7 linked regions of the Homo sapiens genome follow. The protein of the gene in region 6 purifies or fractionates together with the protein of the main gene of each other region. This does not show direct contact. Each region holds a gene or a part of one and is shown on either strand. Other genes may lie near its edges.

The links.
Region 1: the proteins of AMPD2 (region 6) and ANGEL2 purify together in Homo sapiens (affinity purification with mass spectrometry; one large-scale study listed by BioGRID and IntAct). This does not show direct contact.
Region 2: the proteins of AMPD2 (region 6) and ARID3A fractionate together in Homo sapiens (co-fractionation; one large-scale study listed by BioGRID). This does not show direct contact.
Region 3: the proteins of AMPD2 (region 6) and ZMPSTE24 purify together in Homo sapiens (affinity purification with mass spectrometry; one large-scale study listed by BioGRID and IntAct). This does not show direct contact.
Region 4: the proteins of AMPD2 (region 6) and PSMG2 purify together in Homo sapiens (affinity purification with mass spectrometry; one large-scale study listed by BioGRID and IntAct). This does not show direct contact.
Region 5: the proteins of AMPD2 (region 6) and TUBGCP4 purify together in Homo sapiens (affinity purification with mass spectrometry, with the first as the bait; one large-scale study listed by BioGRID). This does not show direct contact.
Region 7: the proteins of AMPD2 (region 6) and TBC1D9B fractionate together in Homo sapiens (co-fractionation; one large-scale study listed by BioGRID). This does not show direct contact.

Annotation. Positions count from the first base shown.
Region 1 is NC_000001.11:213,005,868-213,009,367, reverse strand, and holds part of ANGEL2 (protein angel homolog 2), read left to right. Parts: intron 1-901; coding exon 902-1,158; intron 1,159-2,169; coding exon 2,170-2,239; intron 2,240-3,500.
Region 2 is NC_000019.10:967,535-971,034, forward strand, and holds part of ARID3A (AT-rich interactive domain-containing protein 3A), read left to right. Parts: intron 1-870; coding exon 871-969; intron 970-3,500. UniProt on the Homo sapiens protein: Transcription factor which may be involved in the control of cell cycle progression by the RB1/E2F1 pathway and in B-cell differentiation.
Region 3 is NC_000001.11:40,278,736-40,282,235, forward strand, and holds part of ZMPSTE24 (CAAX prenyl protease 1 homolog), read left to right. Parts: intron 1-1,384; coding exon of another isoform or gene 1,385-1,563; exon of another isoform or gene 1,564-2,515; intron 2,516-2,607; coding exon 2,608-2,792; intron 2,793-3,500. UniProt on the Homo sapiens protein: Transmembrane metalloprotease whose catalytic activity is critical for processing lamin A/LMNA on the inner nuclear membrane and clearing clogged translocons on the endoplasmic reticulum.
Region 4 is NC_000018.10:12,706,042-12,709,541, forward strand, and holds part of PSMG2 (proteasome assembly chaperone 2), read left to right. Parts: intron 1-508; coding exon 509-680; intron 681-3,500. UniProt on the Homo sapiens protein: Chaperone protein which promotes assembly of the 20S proteasome as part of a heterodimer with PSMG1.
Region 5 is NC_000015.10:43,384,601-43,388,100, forward strand, and holds part of TUBGCP4 (gamma-tubulin complex component 4), read left to right. Parts: intron 1-1,190; coding exon 1,191-1,356; intron 1,357-1,605; coding exon 1,606-1,730; intron 1,731-3,500. UniProt on the Homo sapiens protein: Component of the gamma-tubulin ring complex (gTuRC) which mediates microtubule nucleation.
Region 6 is NC_000001.11:109,622,837-109,626,336, reverse strand, and holds part of AMPD2 (AMP deaminase 2), read right to left. Parts: intron 2,309-3,500; exon of another isoform or gene 2,248-2,308; intron 1,035-2,247; coding exon 904-1,034; intron 676-903; coding exon 545-675; intron 178-544; coding exon 109-177; intron 19-108; coding exon 1-18. UniProt on the Homo sapiens protein: AMP deaminase plays a critical role in energy metabolism. Catalyzes the deamination of AMP to IMP and plays an important role in the purine nucleotide cycle.
Region 7 is NC_000005.10:179,890,898-179,894,397, reverse strand, and holds part of TBC1D9B (TBC1 domain family member 9B), read left to right. Parts: coding exon 1-12; intron 13-930; coding exon 931-1,189; intron 1,190-2,811; coding exon 2,812-3,019; intron 3,020-3,500. UniProt on the Homo sapiens protein: May act as a GTPase-activating protein for Rab family protein(s).

The sequences.
Region 1 (3,500 bases), about 100 Mb from region 6:
CCGTGTTTCTCTTCATGGTTTCCATGGCAGTAAGAGCATGCTCTTTAATGATAGGATGTAGGAGACAAGATCAAAGGTGAATACACACACACACATCACACACACGGTTATTTCTAAGTCAGGGACTGCCTATGATTGCAAAGTCTTGTGTTTTTTTATTCTTTTCATCACTTTTGCAGAATGCATGATGTGTTTGCAGAATATGAACACACGCCTGGTTGTTGCATGCTAGGTTTGTTGGTTAGCCATCATTTACTAGCATTCTGTAGCTATGTCATATTTAACTTTTCCTTTGTTGTACATTTAAAAGATTTCTTTTGTTATTTTGTTTGCATGTTCCACTTCAGTGTTTTAAACACTAAAACTTCTTCCATATATTGCCATTATATACACTTCTTTCATGTATAAACTAGAATTCTGAACTAAGGGTTGCTTCTGGAACTTGGTTAATCATTTGACGATCTTATCCCACTAATAGGGAATAAAATACAGTGTAAAATCATCTTATTGAAAAGCCAACTTTGACATACAAATTTGTTGTTATAGTTATAAAACTGCCAATCACATCTGTGGCAGAGCCACTTCTTAACTGTAGAGAAGTGAGAAACCACAACCTCTGTATAGTCTTAGCTTTGTTAACACATACTCTCAGCCTCCAGAATGACTTGCAAGATTCTTTTAAACCTGTTTTAAACCTGTTGGTCAGTATATTGTGTTACCGCATTTGTAACCAATTTGATAACAGTTCTAATTATTCAGTGCTATATTGCCACTTCCTAGGGAAAAACATTCTATTCATTGCTTATGGGAATTTTTAAGAGGCTGAAAAATACATATATGTGGGAAACTGTATGGTCTGCTTTTGATTAATTCCTTATATTTGTGCAATATATTTTAACAGGTGTGATAAAGCGGAATTGGGAATATATATGTAGCCATGATAAAGAAAAAACGAAGATCCTAGGAGACAAAAATGTTGATCCCAAATGTGAAGACAGTGAGAACAAGTTTGACTTTTCAGTGATGTCCTATAATATACTTTCACAAGATTTACTGGAAGATAACTCTCACCTTTATAGACATTGCCGGCGGCCAGTATTACACTGGAGTTTTAGGTTTCCCAATATTCTGAAAGAAATTAAACATTTTGATGCAGACGTAAGTGCAAAATATTATTGAAATTCTTCACATAAGAAAAAGTTGGGGCCGGGCACACTGGCTCATGCTTGTAATCCCAGCACTTTGGGAGGCTGAGGCAGGTGGATCACCTGAGGTCGGTAGTTTGAGACCAGCCTGACCAACATGGAGAAACCCCGTCTCTACTAAAACATACAAAATTAGCCGGGCGTGGTGGCTCATGCCTGTAATCCCAGCTACTCAGGAGGCTGAGGCAGGAGAATCACTTGAACCTGGGAGGTCGATGTTGCAGTGAGCTGAGATTGCACCATTGCAATCCAGCCTGGGCAACAAGAGCAAAACTCTGCCTCAAAAAAAAAAAAAAAGAAAGAAAGAAAAAGTTGGGTTAAATGTTTCATTTGTGCATTTATGAACTAAATGGTTTTATCCATTTTGTTTGTGGGGTAAGAAAGGAATATGTTTAAGAATAATGATGGAATAAGTCTTAATAAGGTATAACTTTCAGAGAGGCATTTGTTAGTGGTTGCTGGTATGAATAATCATCTAACTTTTCAAAGAGGGTCCAAAAAGTTTTTAAGTATGGGTCAGTTTTGAGACAGAAACTGGCAACATATTAAGTATTCAGTAAATATTAACTTTGATTTGAAATTTCAGTAATTCATGCAAAAATGTCACCTACCTGATAGCATTCAAAGAAATCTGCCTCTTAAGACCTGAAAGATAGTACCAATGAACATGTAAAACCCGGAAAAATATCCTGACATGTAAGCTAAGAATATTTCCTTTTGGAAATAATAATTTTGAGTACTAAGGGAGCTCCATGTGATTGAGGGCCAGAGTTTTGAGATTGATCAAAATTCGGAAACATTAATTTGGTAGATCTATAACAAGAAAAACAGGTAAGTCTTTTATTTCAATTCTTATCAGGTGTGGAATTTTAGAAGCCTGCTTTTAGATATTTTAAGATAAAAGCACCAGGAAATTCATGATTGCATCTCTGTGTTCTAATTCAAGCTATTTTTTTCTTCCAAGGTACTTTGTTTGCAAGAAGTTCAAGAAGATCATTATGGAGCAGAGATCAGGCCAAGTTTGGAATCACTGGGTACAATGCAACTTTTTTTTTTTTTTTTTCTTTTTTGAGACAGGGTCTCACTCTGTCGCCCAACTGGAGTGCAGTGGCACAATCATGGCTCACTACAGCCTCAACCTACTGGGCTCAAGTAATCCTCTCATTTCGGCTTCCTGAGTAGCTGGGACTAGAGATGTGTGCCACCATGCCCGGCCAATTATTTAATTTTTTTTATAGAGACAAGGCAATGTAACTTTTAGCCAAATTTACTTTTGAAAATTCATGTGTCATTAAAGTATAACTTGCTGACAAAGATGTGTGGCATATTTTGGCTAAAAATCTTAATTTTAAAAACTTAATTTCAAAGAGGAAAAGATTGAGGTACTCACTGGAAACTTTTGTGTTGGTGTATAATTTTAATTCAAACAGAAAGATGTGTAAGAATATCTTAGTAGCTCCCTTTCCTAGGAGTTGTTCTGTCCACCTGTAGACCTATAAGCTTCTGAGCTCCAGGAGACCATTTTGTCTCGTTCATCATTATAATACCAGTGCCTGCCAGTGTCTACCTAATGGATAGATGCCAAAAACCTGTTTGATAAATAAACACTCCTAGAAACAAGTTATCTGTGGTCCCATATACTTGAGAAGTGTGCTTACTTTGCATTCATTCATTCAGCAATTTTTTTTTTTTTTTTTTTTTGCGACAGAGTCTCTCTCTTGCCCAGGCTGGAGTGTAGTGGTGCAATCTCGGCTCACTGCAAGCTCCACCTCCCAGGTTCACGCCATTCTCCTGCCTCAGGCTCCCTAGTAGCTGGGACTACAGGCGTCCGTCACTATGCCCAGCTAATTTTTTGAATTTTTTTTAGTAGAGACGGGGTTTCACCGTATTAGCCAGGATGGCCTTGATCTCCTGACCTCGTGATCCGCCTGCCTTGGCCTCCCAAAGTGCTGGGATTATAGGCGTGAGCCACCACGCCTGGCCTTCATTAGCAATTTTTTTTTGAGTGCCTACTATATACCGTGCACTGTTCTAGGGAATGAGGATATAGCATTGGGCAAAAAAGATTAAAAAAATTTCTCCCTTGTGTGGAGTGTACCTTCTGGTGGAGAAAGGCTAACCAAATAAATAAGTAAATAGCATATTAAGTAATGATAGTTTTCTGGAGAAAAGCAGGAAAGTGGAATAGGAGAGGTTTCAGTTTTAAACAAAATGATCAGACGAGGTGACATTTGAACAAATATTTGAAGGAGGTGAAGGAATAAGCGATGCCTAGAACATTCTAGGCAACAGAAA
Region 2 (3,500 bases), on a different chromosome or scaffold from region 6:
GGTGACAGAGCAAGACCTGGTCTCAAAAACAAGGTAAAAAAAAACAAAGTGGAGTATGGACAAATACACTTATTCAACAAATAAATATTGAGCACCTACTGTGTGCACTGGTGACAGCATGAATGTGACAGACACCGTCTACACCTTGTAAAGCTAAAATCTAGTTGGCGAGACAGACAGAAAACAGAACATGTCACAGGTGTCTTTATGATCAGAAATGGCAGTTTTGGTCGGGCGCGGTGGCCCACGCCTGTAATCCCAGCACTTTGGGAGGCCGAGGCGGGCAGATCACCTGAGGCCAGGACTTCAAGACCAGCCTGGCCAACATGGTGAAACCCCGTCTCTACTAAAAATACAAAAATTAGCCGGGTGTGCTGGTGTGTACCCATAGTCCCAGCTACTCAGGAGGCTGAGGCAGGAGAATTGCTTGAACCCTGGAGGTGGAGGTTGCAGTGAGCCGAGATCGCACCACTGCACTCCAGCCTGGGTGACAGAGTGAGACTCCGTCTCAAAAAAAAAAAAAAAGAAAGAAACTCATTTGTTCGGCTGGGCACAGTGGCTCATGCCTATAATCCCAGCACTTTGGGAGGCCGAGGCGGGTGGATCACGAGGTCAAGAGATCGAGACCATCCTGGCCAACATGGTGAAACCCCATCTCTACTAAAAATACAAAAAATTAGCCAGGCGTGGTGGCGGGCGCCTGTAGTCCCAGCTACTGGGAGGCTGAGGCAGGAGAATGGCGTGAACCCAGGAGGCAGAGCTTGCAGTGAGCTGAGATCGCGCCACTGCACTCCAGCCTGGGCAACAGAGCAAGACTCTGTCTCAAAAAAAAAAAGAAAAAAAGAAACTAATTTGTTCTTCTTCCCACAGCCTCCGAAAGCCGCCAGGACTCTGCTGTGAACCTGACGGGCACCAACGGCAGCAACAGCATCAGCATGTCGGTGGAGATCAACGGCATCATGTACACAGGTAGGACCCCTGAGGCCACGCCCTGCCTGGACCTCGCCTCTCCCGCCGCCGTGAACTCAGGACCCTGAGTTGCGCCTGGTCCCACCTGCTTGAACCTAGGTGTGCGGGCGAGCAGGGCACGGCCAGGGGCTTTGCAGGACAAACAGTCAAGACTGATGGAGAGGATACCATCGTTCACCCGGTACCACGCTCAGCCCAGAGGGGGTCGTCCACAGATACATATTCAGTGTGACGTTGGATGGTTCACATTCCTAGTTTTTTGTTTTAATGAGACGGAGTCTTGCACAGACATGCACCAGCACACCTGGTTAATTTTTAAATTTTTTGTTGCTCTTTAAATTTTAAATTGCTTTGTTGCTCAGACCGGTCTTGAACTCTGGGCTCACGCAATCTTCCTGCCTCGGCGTCCCAAAGTGCTGGGATTACAGGCGTGAGCCACCGCACCCAGCCAATCCCAGCATTTTCGGAGGCTGAGGAGCAAAGAATGTATAAGCCCAGGGGTTAGAGACTTTCAGGCTGCAGCAAGCTGTGATGACGCCACTGCACTCCAGCCTGGGCCACAGACCGAGACCCTGTCTCTTGAAAAAAAATTTAATGAATGTATTTTTTATTTTTTTTAATTTGTAATTTGTAATTTTTGTGGGTACATAGTAGGTATATATATTTATGGGTTTTATGAGATGTTTTATACTGGCATCCAATGCCTAATAATCACATCAGGGTAAATGAGGTATCCAAAAAATTGAATCTAGGCTGGGTGCAGTGGCTCATGGCTATAGTTCCAGCACTTCGGGAGGTTAACACGGGAGGATCACTTGAGCCCAGGAGTTCAAGACCAGTCTGGGCAACATAGTGAGACCCCATCTCTCCTAAAAATATAAAAATCAGCAGGGCGTGGTGGCAGGCGCCCATAGTCCCAGCTACTCGGGAGGCTGAGTAGGGAGGATCACTTGAGCCCAGGAGGTGGAGGTTGCAGTGAGTCAAGATCACACCATTGCACTCCAGCCTGGGTGAAAGAGTGAGATCCCGTCCTTCTCTCTCTCTATATATCTATATATAGATATATCGATAGATATAGCTGTAGCTATACATAGATATATATAGATTAGATATAGATTTATATGTATCTATAAATACATATATACTTTTATATCTATATCTACATAGATATATATATATATAGTTGTTTTTTTTTTCTTTTGAGAGGGAGTCTTCCCTCTGTCACCCAGGCTGGAGTGCAGTGGCACGATCTTGACTCACTGCAACCTGTGCCTCCTGGGTTCGAGCGATTCTCCTGCCTCAGCCTCCCCAAGTAGCTGGGACTACAGGCGTGTGTCACCACACCCAGCTAATTTTTTTTTGTATTTTTAGTAGAGATGAGGTTTCACCATGTTGGCCAGGCTGGTCTTGGACTCTTGACCTCAGGTGATCCGCCTGCCTCGGCCTCCCAAAGTGCTGGGATTACAGGCATGAACCACCGCGCCCACCCTATATATACATATTTTTTTAAATAAAATGAATTAAAAAGTTGCCGGGCACAGTAGGTCACACCTGTAATCCCAGCAGTTTGGGAGGCTGATGTGGGTGGGTCACAAGGTCAGGAGTTCAAGACCAGCCTGATCAACATGGTGAAACCCCATCTTCCCTAAAAATACAAGAATTAGCGAGGTGTGCTGGTGTGTGCCTATAATCCCAGCTGCTTAGGAGGCTGAGGCAGGAGAATTGCTTGAACCCGGGAGGCGAAGGTTGCAGTGAGCCGAGATCGCGCCACCGCACTCCAGCCTGTGCAATGGAGCAAGACTTCGTCTCAGAGGAAGAAAAAAAAAAGAATTAAAAAATTTAATTAAAAAAGTGGAGTCAGTGCCAGGGGCAGTGGCCCACGCCTGTAATCCCAACACTTTGGGAGGCTAAGGAGAGAGGTTTGCTTGAGGCCAGCCTGGGCAACACAGAAGACCCCATCTCTACAAAAGAACATAAGTAAATGAATAGTTTTTCTTTTTTTTTTTTTTTTTTTTTTTTTTTGAGACAGAGTCTCACTCTGTTGCCCAGGCTGGAGTGCAATGGCATGATCTCAGCTCCTGCAACCTCCGCCTCCTGAGTAGCTGGGATTACAGGTGCATGCCACCAGGCCCGGCTAATTTTTGTATTTTTAGATGATACGGGGTTTCACCATGTTGGTCAGGCTGGTCTCGAACTCCTGACTTCGTGATCTGCTGGTCTTGGCCTCCCAAAGTGCTGGGATTACAGGCATTAGCCACCACACCCGGCGGTAAATGAATAGTTTTTCTTAAAGTGGAGTCAGGCCGATGGTTCATAGTGGCCACCAGGTGGCGCTGTCGACACAGAGCAGCCTTGTTGCAGGCCCCCGCCCGGCTGTGGTCAGAGGCTGAGCTGAAGGTCAGTGGTGTCCTCACAGGTCCACAAATGGATTTTTGAGGGGTCCGTGCCCTCCGGAAATCAGATGTAAAACGTGTACATTCATATTGAATCTTACAGGGGAGAAGGCCAACTGTGTGCTAGGGGTCTCGCAA
Region 3 (3,500 bases), about 69 Mb from region 6:
GTGCTCTTAATCACTATACTCAACTCACTGCACATTGTAGGACATTTAGAAATCAAAGAAGTGCATAAAGAAGAAAATAAAAATCAACCATAGTTCAGGTACTGTTAGCTGCTATTAAAAATTTAGGTATGGGCCAGCTGTGGTGATTCACACCTGTAATCCCAGCACTTTGGGATGCCAAGGCAGGAGAATTGCTTGAGCCCAGGAGTTAGAGACCAGCCTGGGCAACATAGCAAGACCCTGTCTCTACAAAAAATTAGCCGGGCATGGTGGTATGTGTCTGTAGTCCTAGCTACTCAGGAGGATGAGTCAGGAGGATTGATTGAGCTCAGGAGGTCAAGGCTGCAGTGAGCCATGATTATGCCATTGCATTGCAGCCTAGACGACAGAGAGACCCTGTCTCAAAAGAAAAAAAGGTATGTCTTCTTCCAGTCTTTATAAAAATTGCTTTAATTATAGAAGTAGGTATGCTGATTTTAAAAGTCTTTGGGAAAAGAAAGGAAACAAAAATCTATAATTTTAGAATTTAGTGATAAACATTTCAGTATTTTGGTATGTTTCCTAATAGGCATGGGCTTATGCTTTTCTGTTAATATTTGTTAGGTTGGTGCAAAAGTAATTGCAGTTTCAGACCATGAATTTTGAATCCTTATAACTAGGCTCAAACACATCTTTATTAATCAAAAGAAGAACCATTACAATCAACACATTTTTGCCAACAAGAAATACGTTTGCTTATTTCTGTAGGGTAAAACTCTGTGCTTCGGGATTTGGCAAACTCTTGGAAAGCATTTTCTGCATCCAGCTAGTTGTGAAAACGTTTTCTCTTTAAAAAGTTGTTGAGATGCTTGAATAAGTGGTAGTCAGTTGGCAAGAGGTCAGGTGAATGTGGCAGATCAGGCAAAACTTCATAGCCCAATTTGTTCAACTTTTGAAGGATTGATTTTGCGATGTTCGGTTGGGTGTTGTCTTGGAGAAGAATTGGGCCCTTTCTGTTGCCCAGTGCTGGTTGCAGGCGTTGCAATTTTCTGTGCATCTCATCGATTTGCTGTGCATACTTCTCAGATGTAATGGTTTTGCCAGGATTCAGAAAGCTATAGTGGATCAGACTGGCAGCAGACCACCAAACAGTGACCATGACCTTTTTTTGGTGCAAGTTTGGCTTTGGGAAGTGCTTTGGAGCTTCTTCTGTGTCCACCCACTGAGCTGGTCATCGCCCGTTGTTCTATAAAATCCATGTTTCGTCTCACGTCACAGTCTGATAGAGAAATGGTTTGTTGTGTAAAATAAGAGAAGACGACACTTCAAAACAATGATTTTTTTTAATTTTTATTTTCGCTTAGCTCATGAAGCACCCACTTATCAGGCTTTTTCACCTTTCCAGTTTGCTTCAAATGCCAAACGACCGTAGAATGGTCGACATTGAGTTCTTCGGCAACTTCTTGTGTAGTTGTAAGGGGATCAGCTCCGATGATTGCTCTCCATTGGTCATTGTCAACTTCCGATGGCCTGCCACTACGCTCCTCATCTTCAAGGCTCTCATCTCCTTTGCAAACTTCTTGAACCACCACTGCGCTGTACGTTCGTTAGCAGTTCCTGGGCCAAATGCGTTGTTGATGTTGCGAGTTGTCTCTGCTGCTTTACGACCCATTTTGAACTCAAAGAAGAAAATTGCTTGAATTTGCTTTTTTTTTTTTCTTTCTTTGTGAGACAGAGTCTCCGTCTGTTGCCTAGGCTGGAGTGCAGTGGCGACATCTCTGCTCACTGCAACCTCCGTCTCCTGGGTTCAAGCAGTTCTCATGCCTCAGCCCCACGTGTAGCTGGGATGACAGGTGTGCGCCACCATGCCCGGCTAATTTTTTGTATTTTTGGTAGAGACAGGGTTTCACCATGTTGGCCAGGCTGGTCACGAACTCCTGACTTCAAGTGATCCGCCTGCCTCAGCCTCCCAAAGTGCTGGGATTACAGGCATGAGCCACTGCACCCAGTTGAATTTGCTTTTTGTCTAATATAATTTCCCTTATCTAAAATAAATATAAAATAAACAGCAAGTAATGTCATTAGCAAAAAACATAAAGTGAGAAATGTGCATTAAAATGATGTATAACATAACCATATTTATTTAAGAATGTATTCCAATATCAAACAGCAAATTTCAACAATGCAAAAACCGCAATTACTTTTGCACCAACCTAATACATGCACATTTTTTCTTGACGATAATGGAACCTGATATACGTGAAGTTTTGTATCCTTCACAATATATTGGTGAGCTTTTTCTTGTTAAAATTCTTTGGAAGTATAATTTTTTTCTGGCAGCTTAAAATTCCATTTCATAGTTTTACTATAATTGAATCATTTGTAACTGTTGGATGTTTAGGCTTTACTTATTTACTTACTGCTATAAAGCTGTGATGAGCACATTTATTGGCAAAAAACAGACACTCTCCACTGCTGGTGGTGAATTATGTTGATATGATTTTTCTTCACATATTAAATGATTTGAAAATGTTAATGTCCTTTCCAGTAATTCAATTTCTAGGAGTCTCTCCAAAGGACCCCAAACTTTTTAATTATATTCCATGCTTTGAACTGTCTTTTCCTTAGGATCTAAACGCTCTTCCCACAGCAATGCTTATTTTTATGGCTTCTTCAAGAACAAGCGAATAGTTTTGTTTGACACTCTACTAGAAGAGTACTCTGTACTAAACAAAGACATCCAGGAGGATTCTGGCATGGAACCCCGCAATGAGGAAGAAGGGAACAGTGAAGAAATAAAAGCTAAAGTTAAAGTGAGTTATTTTTTCCTAAGAGATTCTACCTTAGTTTTTATACACAGTTCCTGTGACAACTCAAAATAACATCAATTTCTAGGCAGTGAGTGTTGAATTCAGGGAGACTATCAGATGAAAACCATGGCTCCTTTATAGTTCTGGTATTTAGGAGAGATCACCACTATTATTACATGCTAACTACCTTGCAAGCTTTTATAGAATGTGGATATTAAAATTGGAAGCTCTTATAAGAAAATTCATATGATTATAAGCTATCTTTAAAACAGGAACTTGTGTGTATATATATATATGTGTGTGTATATATATATATAATTTCTTATGTGTTTATGATCAAAGAATTCCCACAAGCAAGATAAAGAGAAGATAAACATCTAATTTTTAGCTTTATTAAGACAGTAATTGTAGGCTTTGGCAATGGAGAGACTTGGATTTGAATCCTGGTTCTGTCATTTAGTAGCTTTGTATCCTTGGATACGTTGTGTAATTTAGTCTGTTTTATTTGTTTAACACCCATTTATGAAATGTATACTCTGTGCTGAGAGACTTTACTTGGCACTAGGTACACAAAAATAAAAAGGAATACCTTCCTCTTAAGCTTACAGTCTAAAGGGGAAATAGTCATGCAATCACAGTACAATACGTGAATTGCTACTGTCAAGCTTTAGATTCTAGATATAGTAACTGGAGCACAAGAAAAGACATTTC
Region 4 (3,500 bases), on a different chromosome or scaffold from region 6:
CAATAAGTATTTGTTAAATAGTCTCAAAGGTGGAGGAGGCCCCAGCAGTTGTAGTTAATGAAAATCAATATCTAGCTATGATGTTATGATGCTTTCAGTACTAATATAACTATTGTATTCTGTCTAAACTTTTTGAAGTGCTGTGGGCCAGGCGTGTTGGCTCACGCCTGTAATCCCAGCACTTTGGGAGGCTGAGGCGGGTGGATCACCTGAGGTCGGTGGATCACCTGAGGTCAGGAGTTTGAGACCAGCCTGGCCAACATGGTGAAACTCCGTCTCTACTAAAAATACAAAAATTAGCTGGGTGTGGTGGTGCGCGCCTATAATCTCAGCTACTCAGGAGGCTGAGGCAGGAGAATTGCTTCAAGCCAGGAGGCAGAGGCTGCAGTGAGCCAAGATCACGCCACTGTACTCCAGCCTGGGAGACAGAGGCAGACTCTGTTTCAAAAAATAAAATAAAGTGCTGCTAATTTTGGTGACTTACTGAACATATCTTTTATAATTTCAGCCAGCAGTATCTGTTGGAAATGTTGGCCAGCTTGCAATGGATCTGATTATTTCTACACTGAATATGTCTAAGATTGGTTACTTCTATACCGATTGTCTTGTGCCAATGGTTGGAAACAATCCATATGCGACCACAGAAGGAAATTCAACAGAACTTAGCATAAATGCTGAAGGTATGTAAGACTTTACCTTGTATTTTTCCACTACAAAGTAGAGTTGTTTTAAATTAGAAATAGACTTTATTGATAATTGTTTTGTAGCAAATGTTTACTTAGTGCCAACTTTGTGTAGAGTTCACAACCCAATCACATTGTCCTATTCTTTTATGTCCTGGTTTTAGTTGTTGTTAGCCTCTTGTAAATGGCAAGTCTTACGAAGGTTGAGAATAAGATCATACTTGTATCTTTTTTTTTTTTATTATTTTTGAGACGGAGTCTCGCTCTCTTGCCCAGGCTGGAGTGCAGTGACGCGATCTCCGCTCACTGCAAGCTCCGCCTCCCGGGTTCACGCCATTCTCCTACCTCAGCCTCCCGAGTAGCTGGGACTACAGGTGCCTGCCACCGCACCTGGCTAATTTTTTGTATTTTTTTAGTAGAGACGGGGGTTTCACTGTGTTAGCCAGGATGGTCTCAATATTCTGACTTCGTGATCCAACCGCCTCAGCCTTCCAAAGTGCTGGGATTACAGGTGTGAGCCACCGTGCCCAGCCCATACTTGTATCTTTTCTAGAATTTTTAAATTTCCTTGTTTTTCAACATGGATTTTTTTCCTTCTATCCTCAGTTTTATCTCCTGTTCTTACTGGTATGTGTAACCATCACTAATAATATGGAAAGGCGAAAAGTAGATTGCGCTGGACTCAGTCTTGTAGGTTTAATATATGTTACGTCAACTAAGTCTTATCCTCGTAGTCATCTTCTTCCATTATAGGATCCATAATAATATGGTATAGATAAGGCTCAAAGAGATTGACTTGCCTGATGCCACTAATAGGTGTAGGCTTTTCCCATACTGTAAATCTTTGTAATTCCTCATTGGACTATCAGGCTTGATTAATCAGGGAACACTGGTTATAATGCAGCACAGCACCAGGTGAGTAAGAGAAGAGCTCCTGTTGATCATGAAGCATGGGAGCACCCAGTTACTACCTTTGATGGCTAACTGTTCTGGTGATCTTTCAGTCTTCTGTTTACCATTTTAAGGTCAAATCCAGAGGTGACAGAAGAGCATGAAAGGCCTTTGGTGAATTGAAAGACAAATGAAGAAGCATTTTGGTTTTTGTGTCTTACTAACCATATCATTGTTTTTAGCTTGCGATAGTGAAATGTACATTTGAGAAATGACCTTATTATTGAACTTCCTACAGGACAGATGGCTTTGTCAACGCAAGACTAAATTTGAGTTACTGCCTCAGAGGATAAAGGACTATAAATGGTTAAAACCAGAATTCATGACCGGGTGCGTTGGTGCACATCTGTAATCCCAACACTTTGAGAGGCTGAGGTAGGAGGAACGCTTGAGCTCAGGAGTTTGAGACCAGCCTGGGCAACAAAATGAGACCCCATCTTTACAAAAAGAAAAAGAAAAAAATTAGCCAACCTGTAGTCCCAACCTCTTAGGAGGCTAACTAACTTGGGAGGACTGTTTGAGCCTGGGAGGTTGTGGCTACAGTGAACCATGATGATGCCACTGCACTCCAGCCCGGGTGACAAAGTGAGACCCTGTCTTAAAAAACAAAAGCCCCTAGAATTTGTATACTTTCCACTAGTGATAACAGCTATCTTTTATTGAGTATTACTATGAGCTAAATGCCATGTACTTTTTTTTTTTTAATGAGATGGAGTTTTGCTCTTGTTGCCCGGGCTGGAGTGCAGTGGCGCGATCTCAGCTCACCGCAGCCTCCGCCTTCCAGTTTCAGGCAGTTCTCCTGCCTCAGCCTCCCGAGTAGCTGGGATTACAGGCATGTGCCACCACACCCAGCTAGTTTTGTATTTTTAGTAGAGACGGAGTTTCTCCATGTTGGTCAGGCTGGTCTTGAACTCCCAAAATCAGGTGATCTGCCTGTCTTGGCCTCCTAAAGTGCTGGGATTACAGGCACAAGCCGCTGCGCCCAGCGGCGTTTACATGTAATTCATTTAATCTTTACAACGTTCTTTTTTTTTTTTTTTTTTTTTTGAGACAGAGTTTTGTTCTTGTTGCCCAGGCTGGAGTGCAATGGCACAATCTCGGCTCACTGCCACCTCTGCCTCCCGGGTTCAAGCGATTCTCCTGCCTCAGCCTCCCGAGTAGCTGGGATTACAGGTGCCCACCACCACACCCGACTACTTTTTGTTTTTGTGTTTTTAGTAAAGATGGGGTTTCGCCATGTTGGCCAGGCTGGTCTCAAACTCCTGATCTCAGATGATCCGCCTGCCTCGTCCTCCCAAAGTGCTGGGATTACAGGTGTGAGGAGCAACTGCGCCCGGCCCCCGTAAACTTTATTTTATTTTATTTTATTTATTTATTTTGGGTGTTTTTTGAGACAGTCTCGCCCTGTTGCCCAGGCTGGAGTGCAGTGGCACGATCTCGGCCCATTGCAACCTCTGCCTCCCGGGTTCAAGCGATTCTCCTGCCTCAGCCTCCTGAGTAGCTAGGATTACAGGCACATGCCACCACGCCCGGCTGATTTTTTGTATTTTTAGTAGAGACGGGGTTGCACCATGTTAGCCAGGATGGTCTCAATCTCCTGACCTCGTGATCTGCCTGCCTCAGCCTCCAAAGTGCTGGGATTACAGGCGTGAGCCACCGCGCCCGATTTGAGATGGAGTCTCACTCCGTCACACAGGCTGGAGTGTGGTGGCGGGATCTCGGCTCACTGCAACCTCTGCCTCCTGGGTTCAAGAGATGCTCCTGCCTCAGCCTCCCAAGAAGCTGGGATTGTAGGCACTCACCACACACCCAGCTAATTCTTGTATTTTTTTTTTTTTTTGACAGAGAGTTTTGCTCTTGTTGCCC
Region 5 (3,500 bases), on a different chromosome or scaffold from region 6:
TGGTGTGAGGGAGAGGTGGTACTTGAAACTGTGTAAGTTGGTACTTGATGAAACTTGAGTTAAGCAGAGGCAAGATCACAAAGGTGCATGTAAACAGTGGAAATGAGTTTGTACTTGAACCTGAAAAGAGTTGGGGGCTATTGAATTTTAAGCAAGTGGGTACCACAGTCAGACTTCATGATAAATCACTCTGGATGCTGTGTGGGGAATCATTTTTTAAAAATCAAGATTAGAGGCAGGTCGATCAGTTAAGAGAGTGTTGGGGAGACTTAGGTGAAAATAATAGTCCCCTAAACCAAAGATACTAACATTGAATATGAAAAAAGAGCAAAGAGGTGTGAGAGATGTTTAGAGGGTGGAATCAGTAGGCTTAGTGAGTGCTTGGAAATGAGTCAAGAGGGAAGAATCATTGATGATACCCAGGTTTCTGCCTTCAGCAGCTGGGCAAGTAGTGACGATAGGGGTGTATACTGCTGGTATGCGGGGAAGAAGATGGGTCTAATGGGGGGCATGTTGAGTTTGAGGAACTTGTGGGAAATGTTCAGTGGGCTGAGCCTGGGGCTCATGAGAGCACTCCAGCTTACTTTAAATCTACATATGGAATCATCAGCATGGGGCTTGGAGGTTTTTAATCTGGGGCCCTTGGGTGGCTTCAGGAGGTTCATGAAATGTTATATGTCTGTACATTTGTCTGGAAGATCCATAGCTTTTATGATTGCAGAGAGGTCTGTGACCTAAAAATTAAAACTATCTGTTACACTGATCAGTCACAGAAGACGATGTGATTGTATAGGAAGTGTAGGCTGAGAGGAAAAGACAGTCTGGGACAGTGCCCTGAGGAGCACCAGCAGAGAAGACATAGAGAGAAGACCTGGAAAACAAAAAAGACCACCTCTTTCATCGTACAAGTAAGGAAGCTGGTCGACTGTGCAAGTTTTTACTCAGTAGTAAAGGCAGAGTGAGGGCCCAAATCCCAGTATTTAAGCCACTCTTATTTCCACCATGCCACTCTGCTGCCTGAAGATGAAATACATCTCTCCAAAATGGGTGGTTTGAGAACTGTGCAACACCAGATTTGAAGTCCCTGCGTCTTTATTTTAAATCATGGGTTGGGAGAGTTACTAGGTATTTTCTTGTTTTCCTTTTCTTGCTTCACACTGCATCTCGATGTGTACTCTTTCCTTGACTAGCGCCTGATTGAGGAAGAGAACATGCTGGCACCATCTCTGAAGCAGTTTTCCCTACGAGTGGAGATTTTGCCATCCTACATTCCAGTGAGGGTTGCTGAAAAAATCCTATTTGTTGGAGAATCTGTCCAGATGTTTGAGAATCAAAATGTGAACCTGACTAGAAAAGGTAGAAATCTCCTTGTCCAATGTACCACACCCTCAAAATCTCTTCTTCCTTAATACTATGTGGCCCCACAGCATGCCTGGTCAGAGCGAGTGGTCGATAATATTCCTATCCTGAGATTGTAGCAGAATCATGACGTTTGTCTGAGAAGCAGGTGAAGTTGCTGCCCCACTGAGATTAGCCCTCCCCAGAAAACCCTAACTGTCCTGGGTATTCTCCGTCCTCCTTTGACGGTGTCTTCCTATTTTGCAGGATCCATTTTGAAAAACCAGGAAGACACTTTTGCTGCAGAGCTGCACCGTCTCAAGCAGCAGCCACTCTTCAGCTTGGTGGACTTTGAACAGGTGGTGGATCGCATTCGCAGCACTGTGGCTGAGGTTTGTGTTTCATCGTATATATATATATATATATATATATATATATATTTTTTTTTTTTTTTTTTTTTTTCTTAGGCAAAATTGGACTAGTTTCCTAGAAATTGAGTTACTTGGTCGGGCGCAGTGGCTCACGCATGCAGTCTCAACACTTTGGGAGGCCAAGGCAAGTGGATCATCTGAGGTCAGGAGTTCAAGACCAGCCCGGCCAACATGGTGAAACCCCGTCTCTACTGAAAATACAAAAATTAGTCGGGTGTGGTGGCATGCACCTGTAGTCCCAGCTACTTACGAGGCTGAGGCAGGAGAATCGCTTGAACCCGGGAGGCGGAGGTTGCAGTCAGCCGAGATCACACCATTGCACTCCAACCTGGGCAACAGAGCAAGACTCTGTCTCCAAAAAAAAAAAAAAAAAAAAAAAAGACACTGAGTTACTTGACTTTTGTTTTTATCTTGATGTCTTGATGAGTTAAGAACCGAGCTTGGAAAGAAATGTTGCAGAGAGTTGAAGGCAGAAAGTAGAAAAGAAAAGCCTCTGTTTTCATTAACAGAGGCAGAACTGCCTTCCCATTTTCCTATCTAACTAAAAGACAGGTGGTTTTTAGTTGGTTAGTTAGTTGAATAAAGGGGGGATCTTGGTTTAAATTCTGAAAATCAGCATTTTGGATCTGTCTCTATCGTTTGCAATAACTCCTAGGAATCAACTAATTCTGACTAAATTTTGTGTCTTGTAGTTTAGTATGGCTCATAACTTATACTTTCATTTCTATACACAATCATCTTATGAGGAAAGCAGAACAAATATTATTTTCTCATTCTTATAAATGAAGCAAACACTCAGCAAGCTGACTTGTCTGGCTTGCCTGGTGTGGCACAGTGAGTAGCCATAGTGAGGTCAGTGCCAGGCCTCCGACTCCTGGTGCACAGTCTTCTTCATTTTGAATTGTGCTGGTGCCACCGACTTAAATTGTGACCAGTAATTTTTCAAAGGAGCATATATGTTCTGTGGCTTATATTAACATTTGTCTCATGGATATGTGATAACACGAAATGAGACATTTAGTCAGCTGTGTTGTTAACTATATTCCTGGCTTTCAACATTGGCTAAGCATAGAATCGCATGAGAAAATTTTATTTTTTATTTTTTATCTTTTTATGGAGTCTTGCTGTGTCACCCAGGTTGGAGTGCAATGGTGTGATCTCGGCTCACTGCAACCTCTGCCTCCTGGGTTCAAGCGATTCTCCCGCCTCAGCCTCCCAAGTAGCTGGGATTACAGGCACACATCACCATGCCCAGCTAATTTTTGTATTTTTAGTAGAGATGGGGTTTCACCATGTTGGCCAGGCTGGTCTCAAACTCGTGAGCTCAAGTGATCCTCCCACCTCAGCCTCCCAAAGTCCTGGGATTATAGATGTGAGCCACTGCGCCTGGCCCGCATGAGGAAATTTTAAAACCTGCACTTGCACCAAGTCCTTACTTCCAGAGCTTCTGATTCATAGGTCAGGAGAGGGTAGGTACCTTTATTTTATTTTATTTTTGAGACAGGGTCTTGCTTTGTCACCCAGGCTGAAGTGCAGTGGAGCAGTCGCGGCTCACTACAAACTCCGCCTCCCGGGTTGAAGCAATTCACGTGCCTCAGCCTCCTGAGTAGCTGGGACTGCAGGCCTGCACCAGCATGCCTGGCAAACTTTTTTGTATTTTAATAGAGATGGGGGTTTCACCATGTTGGCCAGGCTGGTCTTGAACGTTTGGGCTCAAGTGATCCTCCTGCC
Region 6 (3,500 bases):
CCCTGTTCCTTGTAGAGCCTGCAGGGGGTGCATTCAAGGGAGGGGTTTAGAGCCGGCAGAAGGGCAGGCTGCAGCTCCGCATCCCCTGTGCCCCTCTGCCCTCCTCACTGTAGGTCCGAGTCACTGTCCGTCTTCAGGAAATCTTGCTTGGCCCGAAGCAGGATGTCTGGCTCCAGCCTAGAGGCAAGAGGGGTGAGAAGTCAGGCAGATCCCGAGGGACGGCCCTTGCTCCCAGGTCCCAGCACCGCACTAGGTGCTGTGCACATGTTGTCACATGTGATCCTCAAAGGCAGAGCTGCAGAACCCTGTGCTGTTCTCACTCACTTTAGAGATGAGAAAGCAGACCCATAAGTTAAGCAACATGACCCAGCCACACCGGCGGCTAGAAGACAGAACAGAACCCAGCAGCCCGACTCCAAAGCCCACTCTATGCTCCCTGTGCAGACCCCCCAAGGCAGGGTGCGAGGGAAAGAGGCAGAAAAGGGGCTCTGAAAGGGTCTGGAAGGGTATGGAGGGAGACTAAGCAGCTGCCTGCCGGGCTCACTTGACATCCTGGCTGATCTGCCGCTCCAGCCGCTGCCGCCGCTCCTCCAGCTGTTCAATGGGGCTCTCCTCGGGGAACTCATACGGGGCACTACGGAGCTCGCTCTCAGCCAGTGAGCGGGTGAACAGCTCCTGGGGGGAGGGAAGGAAGGTCAGCATGGCTGGCCCTCCGCCCTCGGGCACTCTCCTACAGAGTCTGGGGATGGGGTGAGGGCAGCAGGACCAGGGGTACCTGGGAGAGGCTGAGGATCAGGAGACAGCCAAGCGTGAGGTGAGGGGACAGCTTGAGGTGAGGGGTGTGGGGAGCAGAGGCAGGGCATGGAGACACGGGGTGAGGGTGCGGGTGGTGCCAGGTGATACCTCGGCGATCTCCTTGCATTTGCCATCCATAGACGTGCGCAGGTCGAGCGGGAAGTGCTTGAGGCAGGGGGCGGGGCCCGGCAGGGATCGGGCAGACTGCAGCGGAGGGGCCCCCAGACCACCCCGAGCCTCTGCAGAGACAGTGATGCCAGGGTCAAAGGGTGGAGGGGCAGCCCCTGAAAGCCCTGGGCCCCTGCCCTGCCTAGGCCAGCTCCCGAGAGAGCCCAGGGTCGGGAAAGAGGGCAGTCCCTCCTCAGTAGCTGAGGAGTAGGCCTGTGTGTGTGGCTCCCAAAGGGCTCACCCTCACCTCTAACGCAGGGACCCCTCACCCATTCCAGGCTTGGGGTGGGGATTCTGAGTCTGCCCCTAGAACAAGTAGATTCATTACCTCCACAAATGAGACTAGAGCCTGATCCCTCAGGCCATGAGAATCTCCACGTGACTACCTCCCAGAGGCAGGTGCACGTGTGTACGTGTGCACACACATGCACGTACGCACACAGACACCCTCAGAGACACACACCAGGTGCTTGGTAAGGACCAGGCGGCCACACCAGGGACCCCCAGCCTGCAGCTCCCAGGGCAGGCAACCCAGGATCAGACCCGCCCCTGGACTAGCAGATTCTCCACTCAAAGGGGCAGGGCCCTGTGCCTGACATCCTAGACCTGTGCAGCACAAGAGAAGCCGCAGCTGCTGCTCAGCTCTGACCTAGGGACGAGCCCTCAAGGGAAGAGGAGAGGAAGTGGAGGGCCTGGTTGGCAAGGGAACCCTACCTCCTCCCTGGAGGCCCGCCCTGTCCCCCAGGGCCCCAGGGCTGCCAAAATGTGGCCTGGCCTTAGCCTGCCCCTCCAAAAGGAGCTGCCACAAACAGTCTATGCCACTCAGGCCCCAGGATCTGGACCGGGGGCACCACAGAGGGCCCTGGGGAAGGGAGTGTCAGAAGCCAGGGGTCTTTCTTCATCAAGACTAGACTTTCCATCTGTACCACGAGGAGGCTGGCACCAGAGGGCCGTGAAGCTGCTGGTCTATGGGGGCTGCCAAGGCTTCCAGCCTACCCCGAAGGACCCTCCCTGGGCTCAGCAGCCCCAGCTCCTCAGTGAGAAGCTTTCCACACCCAAACTGCCTCTCTCAGCCGGCTGTAAGGAGTGCTCCCCTCCAGCACCCTCCACCCTGGCTTAGGGAAGGATTACAGGATCTGCCTAGGTAGCCGGCCTTAAAGTCTCTGCGCCCATTTCCCAATACTCCAGGACTGGTCCCAAAGCTGGACAAAGGGAAGAGGGAGGGGCCTGCCCCAGATCCAGGACCCCGTCCCCTGCGCACCCCGGCCCCTGCCTGAACCCTACCTGCAGAGTGCAGGCAGCTCCGGCCAGCAGCCCTGTGCCCCTTGCCCGCCTGTTTGCCAGTGAAGCTGCAGCCGGTCCCTCAGGGGCTGGCACAGGCTGTACCAAGTGCAGCTGCAAGCAGGGGAGACCCTGAGATGGCCGTGAGCACGGAGCTAGGGGAGTTCAAGGGAGCCCAGAAACCAAGGGAAGGAGCATCAGAGTTGGGAGATAAGACGAACTCCAGAACTGAAGAGGGCCTCCACCTCTACAGTGCCAGGGAAGACCCAGCCAGATGTGAGGCTCCTAAGGGGGAGTAGCAGGGTAGGCTGACTTGGGCAGGGCAGGCCGACAGGGAGGAGCCAAGCCTCCTTAAAATCCACTGCCCTAGGGGACAGTGAGTGGGCAGGGCCTGGCTGGCCAAAGAGTAAGAGGGGAGAAAAAGGAGGGGAACAGCGCTCTTCATCACACCCACAGCCCCAGGTTGGCCTCTTCTGGCAGTGGCCTTGTTGCTCACCACTGTCCTCTGGGCCCTGATTATGGCATCCCTCAGGAGAGACAGGGCCTTTGCTGGGGTAGGAGCTGGCTGGCAGCTGGGGAAATGGCCCAGTCTAGGTAGGGGCCAGTCACTGAGGCTTCCCCGCTGCCCAGCTGCTCAGGGGGCTGGTTCGCAGGCCCCTAGACCTGCAACCCCTGATCCAAGCCTATCATCAGGGACAGGACAAACTGTCCAGAATAAGTTTGGGAGAAAGGGGGCTAGAATTTGGAGAACATGGATCTGATTCTGTTCCTGCTTCCGGGCATGTCTCTACCTACCTCTGGGAGGCTTTGGGTCCTCATCTACAAGTGGGGCGATAAGTGGTCCCTTCCCTGCCTAGCCACAACTGCCATAAGGCTCACAGAGATAATGGCTCTGCAAGTGTTCTGCAAAACACCAGGCTCTGTGTTGAGGCAAGGCCTGCAATTATGAACTCCTGGGACCCTCAAAATACATTCTACCTGTAGCCCCGCCCACTGAGGACAGTGGGAGGTTCCCTGGGCCCAGTGCAGGGCAAAGGCAATAGGCCAGTAAAGGGCAGTGAAGTGAACTTGGCAGGAGTGGAGATGGGGTGACTCTATCTCTTACTTGGAAAAGGACAAAGTGGGAAGAGGAAGAAAAGAGGGGAAGCTGTCTCACCCCCAGAGTGTAAGATCTTTTCTTGCCCGAGAACCCTGATTTTACACACCTCCTCCCTACATATGGCCCCAGACCACTTCTGACTCCTTCTAGGGGAGGC
Region 7 (3,500 bases), on a different chromosome or scaffold from region 6:
TGGGGAAGGAAGGTGAGCCCGCCCCTCAGTGTGCCCCAGCCCCCACACCCTCAGCCCCTCCCTGCCTTCGGCCCCCAGATACTCCATCCCCACATGGCCACCAGAGGGGTCTCCCTGAAACCCAAATGCCACCTTAGCGGCCCAAGATGGGACTGTCCGGCCTTGGCCAGGCGTACACCTGCTCCCAGCCGACTTTTACCATGCCCCCCACTCGCTAGTAGGGTTCTCTACATGGTGACTCCGCGTGCCTGCCCTGCCCTCTTCTGCTGAACTGGCGTATTCAGGCACACGTCTGTCCCAAATTCCTGGTGATTCCATGTCATGCAATGCCTTGGGTGCGTGCCACAGCCCTCATCTGCTGCAGGTTCCTCCCTACAGACATCCCGGCCACAGGATGCGAGCCTGATTTCCCAGCAGCTCCAGAAAGAGCCCCAGGGTCTTAGCCATCCCCAAGCCCACCAAGCCCTCCTCCCTCCTTGCCTCCCTCAGCCCACAGCCTCCCTGTGCCCCCTCCTGCCCTTGCCGCTTACCTGTCACGACCAGGTGGCCAGTCACCTCCCGTCAGCAGGGGCTGTGTCCTGTTCTGTGTTGGCCGCGCTGTGCTGTGACTGTTCACACCTCCGTGCGCTCCCACTTGGGGGAGCTGCTGGGTGGGTCTCGGTGGTTCACCTCCGCACGTTCGTTCCTTTCCCCTTCAGCCACTGGTGGGGGAGACACTCACCGTGTGTGGTTGGTCTGGAAGGCAGTGGACACCTCAGTGGCCTGGTCCCTCCACATGGAGGGCGTGACACAGCCCAGACAGGCCTGGGCACACAGGAAGTGCTGCCCCCAGAGAGCAGTTCCCTGGGATGGGTCTGGGGTACAGATGGGCATCAGGAGCCTCGCCCTGCCAGGCCCTAACTTGCGGTGTGTCTATCTCTGTGGGCACAGTGAGCCTCGTGGTGCAGTGGGTGGACATAACGCGTCTGGAGAAGAACGCCACCCTGCTCTTCCCCGAGAGCATCCGTGTGGACACCCGCGACCAGGAGCTCTTCTTCTCCATGTTCCTCAACATCGGCGAGACCTTCAAGCTCATGGAGCAGTTGGCCAACCTGGCCATGCGGCAGCTGCTGGACAGCGAGGGCTTCCTGGAGGACAAGGCCCTGCCTAGGCCCATCCGGCCACACAGGAACATCTCAGCCCTGAAGCGGTGCGTTGCCCTCCAGGGCTGGGGTGGGCTCATGTGAGCCAGGTTCGCTGACCTTGGCTGGGACCTGCCTGGTCCAAGTGTGTAGACCTGGAGAAGGTGTCCACATTCACCCCTCATGGGCTCCCCACTTGGGAAGGAAGCCAGGTAAACAGATCATTGCAGTCCCGTGTGGAGAGGCAGCAGGAGATAGCAGTGATGTCCTGAGGATACCACTAATGGGGAGGAAGCTCTTCACACTTTATTCCTCTTGGCCCTATGATGGGAAGGGGCTCTTACCATCCCTAGGTATCAGACAAGGAAGCTGAGGCACAGAGAGGTTAAGTAACTTGCCTGAAGTCCCTCGGTTAGTGAGCAGTGGAGCCAGGATGTAGCCACCTCAGCCAGGGTGTTCTGACACCCCCAGAAAGGCTTTGGTAAATCTGGGCTCAAGTGCACGGCCTCCGTCCCACCGTGATTGACAGCTCTCCTGTATACCCTGAGACTCCTTGGCCAGAGGCCTCTCACAGCCATGGGACCCCCAGGGGTCCTGAGTTTGACGTGGAAGCAGACCTCTGGGTCTGAAGCCAGCCAAGGAGATGGGCCATGTGTGGGTCTGAGTTCCCTGCTGCCCTGTCCAGGGGACCGATAGGCAGGAACACATCATAGCAGCCAGCCCTCCCGGGCTACTTAACGTTTGGGTTCCTAGGTTGTAGCTTATGGGAAACTCCAGAGGCTGGACAAGATCTCTGAGGTTCCCTGGGTCCCACAGCCAGCCTGACCACAGCCAGATTCACACCCTTGTGTTGAGCGACCTCATTCCAGCCAGGCCATTTCCTGCATTGCACCCACAGACTGTGGTCCAGGCCCAAACTCTGGGGTCCACCTCCAGGACCAGAAAATTGTGCAAGCATGTTGTCCTTGGGATGCAAGTGACAGGTTGGCTTGTTGGACCTTTTGGAAAGAACACGAGCAGAGATGGAACATGACTGCTCCTGGCACTGCCGGTGAGAATGCAGTCAGGCCCTGGTCAGGCCACTGCGGCCCAGGGCAGGCAGGAGGCTCCCTTTGGGGCTGGGAGAGTTTATGTGGACAGAGCCACCAAAGGGGTGAGGGCCTGGGCCAGGCCACTGTCACAGCCATCAGATACACAGGTGTGCATTTCTGTTAGCAGCCGCATGCTTTAGTTTAAGCTCCACACCTCCCTGTGGGGAGCTCCTCACCTAGGTTTCAAGGTGAAACCTGGGGTTAGGCCTGCCCAGGGTGGAAGAGCTGCCCGGGGCCCTCCATCTGAGTGGGATCCAGGGCAGGTGCTCTGGGCTCTGCTTGCCCATCAGTACCGAGGGATGGGTTGCACATTGCCCAGGCCAGCATCTAGGTGTGTCCTTTTCAAAGCAGTCTCAGGACACATTGCTTGCTGGCCACTTCTCCGCTGGTTATGTGACTGTCTCACCTTCTGCCTGCTCACTCAGCATGCATCTTTTATTGAACTCTGAGGTCCCTGAGCATGACTTGCTCAAGGGACCACCCCAGGGATCCTGAATCTGATGTGGAAACAGGCCTGGGGAGGCCCCAAGGCTTCCTTGAGAGTGTGCTGGTCCTGACCTTGTCCCCTTTCCTCCTGTCCTCCTACCTTGTTTCCCCAGAGACCTGGACGCCCGAGCCAAGAATGAGTGCTACCGAGCCACGTTCCGGCTGCCCAGGGATGAGCGGCTAGACGGCCACACAAGCTGCACCCTGTGGACGCCGTTCAACAAGCTGCACATCCCTGGCCAGATGTTCATCTCCAACAACTACATCTGCTTCGCCAGCAAGGAGGAGGACGCTTGCCACCTCATCATACCCCTGAGGGAGGTCAGCATCCCCTAGTTGAGAGGCCAAGGCCTTTCCAGCCCCGAGGTGTCAGTGGGCTCAGGGACCAGCCTGTCCTGCTCTGCCCTGTCTCACTGGGGGGTACCTGGGAGGATGCCCTAGCCCAGGCAGTCACATGTCACTCAGTGATGGGACAGGTGGAGGGTGTAGGACAAGTGAGCCCCTCCACAGGCACCTGCCCTGTTGGGGAGGCAGGTAACATGGTGGGGGCACACTGCTTGCCCTCTCAGGTCACTTGCCTAGTGGAGACAGGGTCTCCCACGCGTGAGTTTCCATCAGGCCTGCCTTCTGGGCCCTGCAGGGCAAAGTGCTGCTCCGTGGCTGCGCTTAGAGGACCGTGTTCCTGCACCGGTCCCATATGTCACTCTCAGAGGCCACCTCACCAGTCCTCTCTGGACATACCACCTTGGCGTGGCTCGGCTCCAGCAGGCCATCAGAGGTCGGCTCTCCCCTGTGGGGCGGC